Homo sapiens: one gene and its partner. The protein of the gene in region 2 purifies or fractionates together with the protein of the main gene of each other region. This does not show direct contact. Each region holds a gene or a part of one and is shown on either strand. Other genes may lie near its edges.

Evidence for each region. The genes of interacting proteins can lie anywhere in the genome.
Region 1: the proteins of MS4A10 (region 2) and DSTYK purify together in Homo sapiens (affinity purification with mass spectrometry; one large-scale study listed by BioGRID and IntAct). This does not show direct contact.

The regions. Positions count from the first base shown.
Region 1 is NC_000001.11:205,166,214-205,171,322, reverse strand, and holds part of DSTYK (dual serine/threonine and tyrosine protein kinase), read left to right. Parts: intron 1-1,490; coding exon 1,491-2,160; intron 2,161-5,109. UniProt on the Homo sapiens protein: Acts as a positive regulator of ERK phosphorylation downstream of fibroblast growth factor-receptor activation. Involved in the regulation of both caspase-dependent apoptosis and caspase-independent cell death.
Region 2 is NC_000011.10:60,787,793-60,792,901, forward strand, and holds part of MS4A10 (membrane-spanning 4-domains subfamily A member 10), read left to right. Parts: intron 1-2,521; 5' UTR 2,522-2,543; coding exon 2,544-2,726; intron 2,727-3,181; coding exon 3,182-3,301; intron 3,302-4,472; coding exon 4,473-4,529; intron 4,530-4,532; exon of another isoform or gene 4,533-4,715; intron 4,716-5,109. UniProt on the Homo sapiens protein: May be involved in signal transduction as a component of a multimeric receptor complex.

The sequences.
Region 1 (5,109 bases), on a different chromosome or scaffold from region 2:
CCCACCACCACACCCGGATAATTTTTGTATTTTTAGTACAGATGGGGTTTTGCCATCTTGGCCAGGCTGATCTCAAACTCCTGACCTCAAGCGATCCTCCTGCCTTGGACTCCCAAGGGCTGGGATTACAGGTGTGAGCCACTGCGCCGAGCTTAAAGATCATTCTCGAAACTCACTTTAGCAAACTTGGGTATTTCAGTTAGGATTAGGTTCAATTGTAACAGATCATCAAACAAACAAACACAAAAAAACCAGGAACTTAAAGATAGAGTTTTTGGGTTTTTTTTTTTTTCCTTACATGAAAGAAGTCTGAAGCTAGGTAACTGAGAGCTGGCATGGCAGTTCTGTGATCACCAGAGACCTAAGCTCCCTCTTTCTTTTGGTGTCATCATCTTTAGTGCTGGCTTCCACCATCAGGTTTGCCTTAGGGCTGCTGAGTGATCGCTGCTGTTCTAGCTGTCACATCTGTGCTCCAAGCAGGAAGAAGGACAAGGCCAAAGGACATATTTCCTGGTAGAATCCACCCCCTGTACCCTAAAGGGCTTTCCTGGAAACCCCACCCACTTATCGGATACCCCTATCTGTAAAGGACATTGCCTTCACTTATAACATGGAGACTAGATATTGGATAGGCAAACCTTGGTCTTTGCCATACCAAGTGATCGATCATATTCCTAAAGGTATTTCTTAGACTTAGGTTGCTAAGACTTCGGGATATCTACAGACTCAGAACAGGACAGTAATAATGTTTGGTGAACCTGGCTTTTCGTTTCCTGCTTAATTGATTAATTCAACAGTATTTAGGACTTACCACATGCTAGGCACTGGAGCTACGATAGTAAGCAAAATAGACCCAGTCCCTGCCCTCAAAGAGTTTACAGACCCATGGGGGAAAGAAAGGTTTTAAAGAAGTGGATTATAAATATGTTGAACCTTAAGAAGAGGGAAGTAAAGTGTGCTTGGTTGGGGCTGTGTGATAGGAAAGGCTCTATAAGGATATGTCATAACATATACATTGAAACTTAAAGGATGCTTAGGAGTTAGCCAGGTCAGAATGGCAGGGATGGAGGTGTCAGAGGAGAGCAAGAGGGGGAGGAGTGCCCCAGGTCGACTCACTCCCAGTCTGATAATTTCCATTACAATTCCTTTTTCTTCCATTATTTGTCTTAATTCTTCATCAGAGGGAATCAGTGGGAATGTCTAAGCAATAAAGGAAGGCAGAGACCAAAATTTTTTTTTAATCTGATGGCTAAAGGGGTTGCCATCCTTTCTACTTCTTTGTTTTTTCACTCTCTCTAGATGAGTGCCTGCCTTCATAGGCTGCACCAGGGAGTGTTGGTAACCGAGGAAGGAGGTGGATCAATGGCTGGGGTACCGAAGTCCAATTGTTCCATTGTAGATCAGGATTTTGGTCTCAGTGTGGGACTTTGGGGAGACAGGGATTGGTTCTGACCCTGAGGCGCTGATATATGACCCCCTTCCCCTTCCAGGAAGTGGACGTTGTGGTAGCACCATGCCAAGGCCTCCGGCCCACAGTGGATGTTCTGGGTGACTTGGTGAATGATTTCTTGCCTGTGATAACCTATGCACTCCACAAAGATGAACTCTCTGAGAGGGATGAGCAAGAGCTTCAGGAAATCCGAAAGTATTTCTCCTTTCCTGTATTCTTTTTCAAAGTGCCGAAACTGGGCTCGGAGATAATAGACTCCTCAACCAGGAGAATGGAGAGCGAAAGATCACCGCTTTATCGCCAGCTAATTGACCTGGGCTATCTGAGCAGCAGTCACTGGAACTGTGGGGCTCCTGGCCAGGATACTAAAGCTCAGAGCATGTTGGTGGAACAGAGTGAAAAGCTGAGACACTTGAGCACATTTTCTCACCAGGTGTTACAGACTCGCCTGGTGGATGCAGCCAAGGCCCTGAACCTGGTGCACTGCCACTGCCTTGACATCTTTATTAACCAGGCATTTGACATGCAGCGGGACCTGCAGATCACTCCCAAACGTCTGGAATATACTCGAAAAAAGGAGAATGAGTTGTATGAATCATTGATGAATATTGCCAACCGAAAGCAGGAGGAAATGAAGGATATGATTGTTGAGACACTTAATACCATGAAGGAGGAACTTCTGGATGATGCTACTAACATGGAGTTTAAAGGTAGGTCCCAGAGAGCTTGTTGGGGTGCTGGCACGGGAGGAGTCTCTAACCATTTTCTAGCCGGAAATTAAGAACGTTAATTCCTAAGGTTAAAGGAATCTCAGGGTAACTTCATCCACCCCACTGTTACCAGCAGGAGCCCACTATTTAGCCAAGGTGGCCTCTCTTGCTCTCAAAGATCATTGTGGAAGATTCCACCCTCATTCCTTCCCAAGAACATTAGCTCAACTTTTGGTAAATTCATCCTAATAGCTCTGTAATCTCCACTTTCTGCCTGTACCCCCTCAACCCCTAATGGAGCTGGAGAAGAGCTGCTTGGAGAATGTTAGTAAATTGTGCTTTAACCTTTGCTCCTGCAGTATGGCTCATGCCTCTTTATTGGTTCTTTTTGTCTCATGGTCTAATTTCCTTTCAGGCTGCTTCTGAAGCCCACATCAGGAGGATTTCCCAAAGTTGTGTTTTTAGCCTTTTGACAGTCCTATTCTTCACAAATGGCTACTAACAAAATTGGGTGAAAGTGATTGGTCAGGTCTTTGGGTGTCTGAGATGCTGCTGATTTTGTATACTGACTTCTGTATAAACCTCCATGCAAGATTAAAATGACATGGTTTGCAAGTTACCCTTTAGAGTCTCAGTTGTGAGTATCCTAATCCCTTGGGAGGCTTTCTGAAAATACACATGCTCAAGACCACTAAAGATGACTGCAGACTTACTCACGATTTCTGACATGGGACCCAGCATCAGTATTTTTAAAAAATAACCTCCCTAGGTAGATTCTGCTTATTTCCTTTTTCTAGATGAGGGACTAAGGCTTAGAAAGAGTAAGTAATTTGCCCAGGGTCACACAGCTAGTAAATATTAGAGGCAGGATTTGAATCCAGACAGTCTGATTCCTGAGCCCATATTCTTAATTTCCATCCTTTACTGCTTCTTAATCTGTTTCCAGTTACTGATGCCACCTTCTTCCTGGTACCCACCTTCAAAACCTCAGCATGGTCTTGAATTGTCTTCCCTTGGCTAATCAGTTGCCAAGTACTGATTAATCTTTCTTTTTTTTGAGATTAAGTCTCGCTCTGTCGCCCAGGCTGGAGTGCAGTGGCGTGATCTTGACTCACTGCAACCTCCGCCTCCTGGGTTCAAGCAATTCCCCTGCCTCAGCCTCCCGAGTAACTGGGATTACAGGCGTGTGCCACCGTTCCCGGCTAAATTTTTTTTTGTATTTTAGTAGAGACGGGGTTTCATCATGTTGGCCAGGATGTTCTTGACCTCGTAATCTACCCGCCTCGGCCTCCCGAAGTGCTGGGTGGCGTGAGCCACCACACCTGGCCTCGATTAATCTTCTTACGTATTCGATACCTATCTATGCTTTTCTATTCTGTCTTAAGTCTAACTGAACTATTGTTATCTAACTGATCTCCCTGACTTCTTTCTTCAGTTCACCTTTACTGGCTCCCTACTTCTACAGACTAAGTTTAACTCCTACACCTAGTATTAAAGACCTCCCAAAGCCTAGCCCTTACCAACTTTTCCAGTCTTATTTCCCCACTATGCACTTTCCTGTATTTTCTATGTCAGTTGGTCTTAACTTCTTTCTGTCCTCCATACGCTCCCTTTACTTTTTCTTTGCTAACACCCTGCCTTAAACCTGGAATGTCTTTGATTTGTCTGTGAACTTCCAAATCCTACCTACCCATCAGGGCCTGTCTCCCAAATGCCATTTTTCATGAAGTCTTCTTTAATTTTCTCCTTCTTTTTTTATTTTTGGGACAGGTTCTTGCTCTGCCATCCAGACTGGAGTGCAGTAGTGCAGTCATGGCTCACTGCAGCCCCAATCTCCTGGGCTCAAGCAATCCTCCTGCCTCAGCCCCCTGCACACCTGGGACTACAGGCACATGCCACCACACCAGCTAACTTTTTGTATTTTTTTTTAGAGACAGGGGTTTCACCATGTTGGCCAAGCTGGTCTTGAACTCCTGGTCTCAAGCAATCCTCCCACCTCGGCCTCCTAAAAAGTGCTGGGATTATAGGCATGAGCCATCACACCTAGCCCTGCTTTAATTTTCTTAGCTAATAACAATTGCAGTCATTTGAAATCCCATAGCATTCCATCTGTAACTTATTTCTGGCATATTTCACTTTCTATCTTTTATTATAGTTATTTATGTACTGCGGACTACTTCCTAAAATCCTAGAGTTGAAAGAGGGTAGGATCTGGGTCTTATTCATCATCATATTCCTTGCAGCAAATAACACAGACTCTTGTATACAGTACGTCTTTGGAGAATCAATGAGTGTGTGAATGATGGTATCTAGTTTAAGTTACACTTATAAATACAAAGGAAGTATGGTTGACTTTAGCAAACATAGGTTGCCTGATTTCTTATAGTCATTCTAAAGATGAACAGAGATACCTCTTTGGTTAATTCCCCACTGCGAGAGGAGTTGTTGAGAAGTGTTACTTGCAGTGGAAATCTTAGGAAGTCTTCTCAATATTTGATTAAAGACACCAGAGCATCACTGCCGGCATCATATTACACAGAATGGAGGTCAGGACAGCTAGGTTGGGCAGACAGTAAAGTATCCGATTGTTCTTACCTTGTTCTAAGTGCTTTCTGAGTATCCTTGAAACAATAAGAAGATTTAGAAGCAAGCTAGCACATATTCTATGGAGCCAGATTTTTTTTTTTTTTTGTAAAGACGAGGTCTTGCTGTGTTGCCCAGGCTTGTAGCGATCCTCCTGCTTCAGCCCCCACAAAGTGCTAGGATTACAGGTATGAGCCATCGTGCCCAGCGTTGAGCCAGATTACTATTACTGTCTGTTTTTAAATAAAGACAATGCATATGTGCTAGGTATCATGATATTCACACTTTATAAAATTTATTTTTAAGATAAAACCTATATGTATAGTACTTAACTCAGAGTTATAAAGACACCATCCCCCAGCCACC
Region 2 (5,109 bases):
GGATCACCTGAGGTCGGGAGTTTGAGACCAGCCTGACCAACATGAAGAAACCCCATCTCTACTAAAAATACAAAATTAGCAGGGCGTGGTGGCAGGTGCCTGTAATCCCAGTTACTCAGGAGGCTGAGGCAGGAGAATCACTTGAACCCGGGAGGCGGAGGTTGCGGTGAGCCAAGATTACGCCACTACACTCCAGCCTGGGTGACAAGAGCGAAACTCCGTCTCAAAAATAGAAATAAATAAATAAATAAATAAATAAATAATAAAGATTATATGGCCAATTAAGTTTGGGAAATGCCCTTAATACTAAAACAGAGTGTGCCACTTGTAGAAAATCTCAGAGTCTTTAATATGAGAAAAAGGGAGAAGAGGCTAACCATGGTTTCTCAAACTTATTTGACCATGGAACCCTTTTACTGCAGATACATCAGGACCAATGTTCCATGGAACATACTTTGAGAAAGGTTATTCTGGATTCTTGAGTCCAACTCCCTGTTGGATATTTGAACCATTCCTACTGCCACAGCTCTCACAAGTGAATGTCTAGGTGGAGGTACAGCTCCAGTGCCCAGGCACTCACTATCTCCGTGGACAAGCAGTTCCATCCAAGGCAGCTCTACTAAGAAGTCCCTCTTCTTCTGTTCTTTGCAGTGGAGTCCAGGCCTGGGTCCAGGTATTGTCCTCCCAGGTGTGCAGAGTCTAGGTGAAGCCAGTGGCTAACCTGGTTCAGGCCTCTGCCACCGAATACATCCCTTAGTCCAGCTAGCTGTGTCAGACGGACTTCTGAAGGCTTGGGAACCTTCCCAAGGGACAGTTCCCAGAGGGACAGTTCCCATGCATAGCTGGGCAGAGTCACAAAAAGAATCATACAGCACTGTGTCTATGAGCTCAGCTTCTGAAGCCCAGGAAAGAGGGAGACCCTCTGCCCACTCACCCCACTAAATCAGCGGTCGTCACTGCAGGACCATGGAGATATCAATCAGGGGGTCCTACCCAGCAGCCCAGGCCCAGAGCACTGGCGATGGAGTAAGACCATGCGTGGTTCCAATTCCAGGCACTTCCTCACTGTGTGACCATGGCCAAGGCAGGCAACCTCTCTGAACCTTGGTTTCCTCTTCTATGCAATGGTGCTGACTTCCTGAGTATTAAGGGAGGTTGCCAGGCAAAACTGCCTCCTGGCACAGTGCCCGGCATACAGTGCTCACCCAACTGTGAGGCCCCATCTGGCTCTTTGGCTCTTGATAATGTCCCTTCCTTTCCCCTCTACCCAATCCAGGATATAGTCACCTGGGCTATTTGTCCCTCCAAACTTCCCAAAACTCTTTCCCTGCATCCCTGTGGAAAATGTGGATGCTCAATGGAACTTCCTGGATCCACAAGTCAGACTTAAAAGTGAGAGGAATGGCCCTCCCTTTTCATTCATCCAGGATACAGTCTGAGAGCAGCCTCTCTCTCTCAAGGATTTGCTCATTAGCCCCATCCCCATGGAGAAACCATCTCTGACCTCAATCCCTGCAAGCCAGCTCCCTTTCTTCCCCGCCCAGCTGTCCACTTCCTGGGACAGAAAGACTACGTTGGATTTTCTCACCAAGTCCCAGGCAGCCCCCAAGCCCTAGTGCATCCCACGGCGTCAGTATACACTATACCAGGCCCTGTCTGCAGGTCGTGTGTCCAGCCCCCTTCTAACTTTTTTCCCCAACTCCTTTTTGTGCCCATGAGAACATCCAGAACATTCATTTCCAATTGTTGAGCCAACAGTGCATGAAGGACTTAAGCCCCAGGCTCTGGAGCCAGCCTGCCATGCTTCAAGTCCAAGTCACTTACTGGTTGTGTGACCATGGGCAAGTGGCTTAACCTTTCTGAGCCTCATCTGCAAAATGAGAGTGAGGACGGTATTTACCTCATAGGGTTGGAATGAGGACAAAATCAGGTAATGCACGTAGAAGGTTTATCTCAGTGCCTGGAGCAGAGAAAGTATTTGTAAATGTTAGCATCGTTAAATATGGACTTCCTGACTCAGTGTTGGCTCATAAAAAGTCCTCGGTGGAAGATATTTTCTTCCCTTCTCTCCAGGAGGCATGGGCACCACCACAGGAGGTAGGACAATTATTTCCCACCTGCCTTCAGTCACTCTTCTTGGACCAGTGGATGGAGACTGTTTACAAAGCCCCTCCATTGACCTGCACCTCTCGCACCTCCCAACTCTTCCAAACTGCAGTCTGGCCACTTTGGGTGAGCTCTGTCTTCCACTGGTTGTGAAGTTTGCCTGGTCCTCATTTTTCTGCCCCAAAAGGAGCTGTGTCTTTGCAACCCCAGAAAGGCTGTGAGCAGCAATTACTCCCATCTCCAGGGGCCAGATTATTCCAGGTCAAATCAAGACCAAGACCAGGGGCTGCCAGACAGGGCAACCACAGTTCTGGAAAGATCTGGTCCCTTAAACAGAGGTGATTGGCAGAGGCTCACCCAGGCACAAGCCTCAGAAATGAGACGGGTTCTGACGGCCTTCCTCCCCGTCCTGCAGCCAGGGCCCCCATCCAGCATCAATGAAAGCAGAAGCCACAGTTATTCCCAGCCGTTGTGCTAGGGGGCTCCCATCATGGCAAGTCCTCAGCCCAGTCCAGCCCTGGCAGACAAGTGCACCCCAGAACACGACCCAGCCCAAGCTCCTGGCTCCACACCAGCACGAGAAGTCCCAGAAGAAGAGCAGCCTTCTTAAGGAGCTGGGGGTGAGCATCCACTTCCCAGGGTCCCAGCAGTGGGAGGCAGAGGAGAGGGGGATATGAGGAGGATGCTGGGGGGCCCCAAGGGAAGAAAGGGAAAAGAGAAAGGCTCCAGCTTTCCTGCTGAACATTCATCTGAACTGGAAAAGGCCTTGAAGATTGGAGAGAATCTGCCCACACCTACTACTGCCTTGTGAGGTTTGGACAGGGCCCTGTCCTGGGGAGAATGGCAGAAGGCTGCCAGCTCCAGGATAGATAGCTCCCACCCATGGGGCCCTTGGCAGCTTCAGCTCTTTCTGCAGGAAATCCTGGGGAGTGGTCCTTCTTAGAGAGCCTGGTCTCTGGGATCCCTAAGAGGACAGAAGGGACTCACCACAGCCAGTAGGTCCAGGGCACTAGTGGCCTCAATTAGAGCCAGTGACCGATGCCCTCACCCCAGCCATTCTCTCTTCCCCACCCAGGCCTTCCACATCACCATCGCTCTGCTGCACCTGGTCTTTGGGGGCTACCTGGCCTCTATAGTCAAGAACCTTCACCTGGTGGTGCTGAAGTCTTGGTATCCATTCTGGGGGGCTGCCTCTGTGAGTAGAAGGCAAAACACAGACCGGGTGTGGGAGTCTGCAAGGCAGGCCTGGGAGGCCCTGGCATTTGGGACAGGATGCAGGGTGGGATAGAGAGAGCTAATAGGAGTGCGGCAGAAGCGAGGCCCTTTCTCCAGTGTTCCTAGCTCTGCTTCTTTTATCTTAGTCACAATGGAAATAGCTCCTTCCAGGGAGCCCCTGTCAATTCTGAGTCCCAAGAGAGCACTTGGAGGCTATCCATTCTCCCATAATTGAATATGTGCATTTGGCAAAGAGGAGGGTGAGTAAGACCCAGGGACAGCTTCATTCTTCCCCAGCCTTCTGAGCAGCCAGGCTGCCTCTGGATCCAGCTACAGGTGCCCTGTTGGGGTTGAGCTACAAAAACACACAGGGTGTAAGGTGTGGCTCCTGTCCTCCCAAGGCCATCAGCCAGGATGGGAGATGACACTGGACCAGTGCATGCACCATTTCCCAGAAGCTCTACATTCCTTCAGGTCTCCAGGGAGCCCACCCCATTCCTGACTCCCAGGTGGAGTCCTGCCTATGCACTAAGTCCAAGCTCCACGGCACTGTCTTGGGCAAGTATCCCAATCCCCCTTTCACATCAGTCCACTGTTCTCACTGCCCACAGGATGGGGCTTTCACTGCACAGTGATAGAACTTTCCACACATGCAGTGCTTATTCACCCTGTGCTCCCAGGGACTAGCCCATAGTAGGTGCTCAGTGCACATTGGAAAGAATGATTGCAGAGGTGCTCCCAGAGACCTTGGAAGCAAGAACTCATATCCTCCCAACTGCAAGATTCAAGAAAAGAGAAACAGTCGGGGTGGAGGGGATAGTGCCACTGATCCCAGCGATGGTTTGGGTTTGTAAAATGAGGGAAGCAGGAGGGTCTAGGAGGGAGTTCTAAGTGCAGGGCACAGCTTGGTCCAAGGTGTAGAGATGGGAGGAGGTATGGAGGTTTGTGCACATGGGAAGATGTGAGGTGGGGCAGCTTCTTGGATGGGCCACATGGCAGGCAAGAGGAGCTCACTTTGCTGGAGGAATAGTATTCCCTGCCCCACTGGCCGCCAAGGGTTGATTTTCTTGGAGAATAGGGGTGGGGGTGGGAATTTGTGGGTTTTGAGGAACCCCAGCTTCTCTCCTTTGACTTTCAAATCTGTCCTGCAGTTTCTCATTTCAGGGATCTTGGCGATAACAATGAAGACCTTTTCTAAAACTTACCTGGTGAGTGGGCACACTGAGATCATTCTCTTCCATCTGAGCATGGCATAACTTTGTTAAGGGCATCTGTCTGTAGGGGTGATTGTGAGGGCACTTCTCCAGGACTTGCTAAGAGCAGGCTCTTGCCTTCAGGACAGCAGAGGATGTCCAAGCAGAAGGGTCCAGATGCAGACAGGCTGACAGACTTGGCTGTGGGAGGAAAGGAAGCACCATCTGAAGCTTCTCTCTTTCCAGTGCAGTGAGGCAGAGAAGGAAATGGCTCCCAGGCACCCTGACCCATCCATCTAGGACACAACTTTGCTTCCTCTCAAATCTACTGTGTCTTAATCTTAATCACCACATAGCCTGCAAGCCCCAGCCTCCAGCTGGATTTGCATCTACTTCTCCTCTCTAAGAGCCAGGCAGATGGAACGGTGGTCCTCCCTTTTCTGCCCGTGCTGGCCACTGCCCAAACACCTTGCCCTCTCCCCTGCACACATGGCTCCCATCTTTGACTTACTCCTGACCACTCAAGACAACCTGTATGTCTTGTCCTCCCGGAGATCTTCCCTGACCTCCATGGCTGCCTTCCATTCTCCCACAA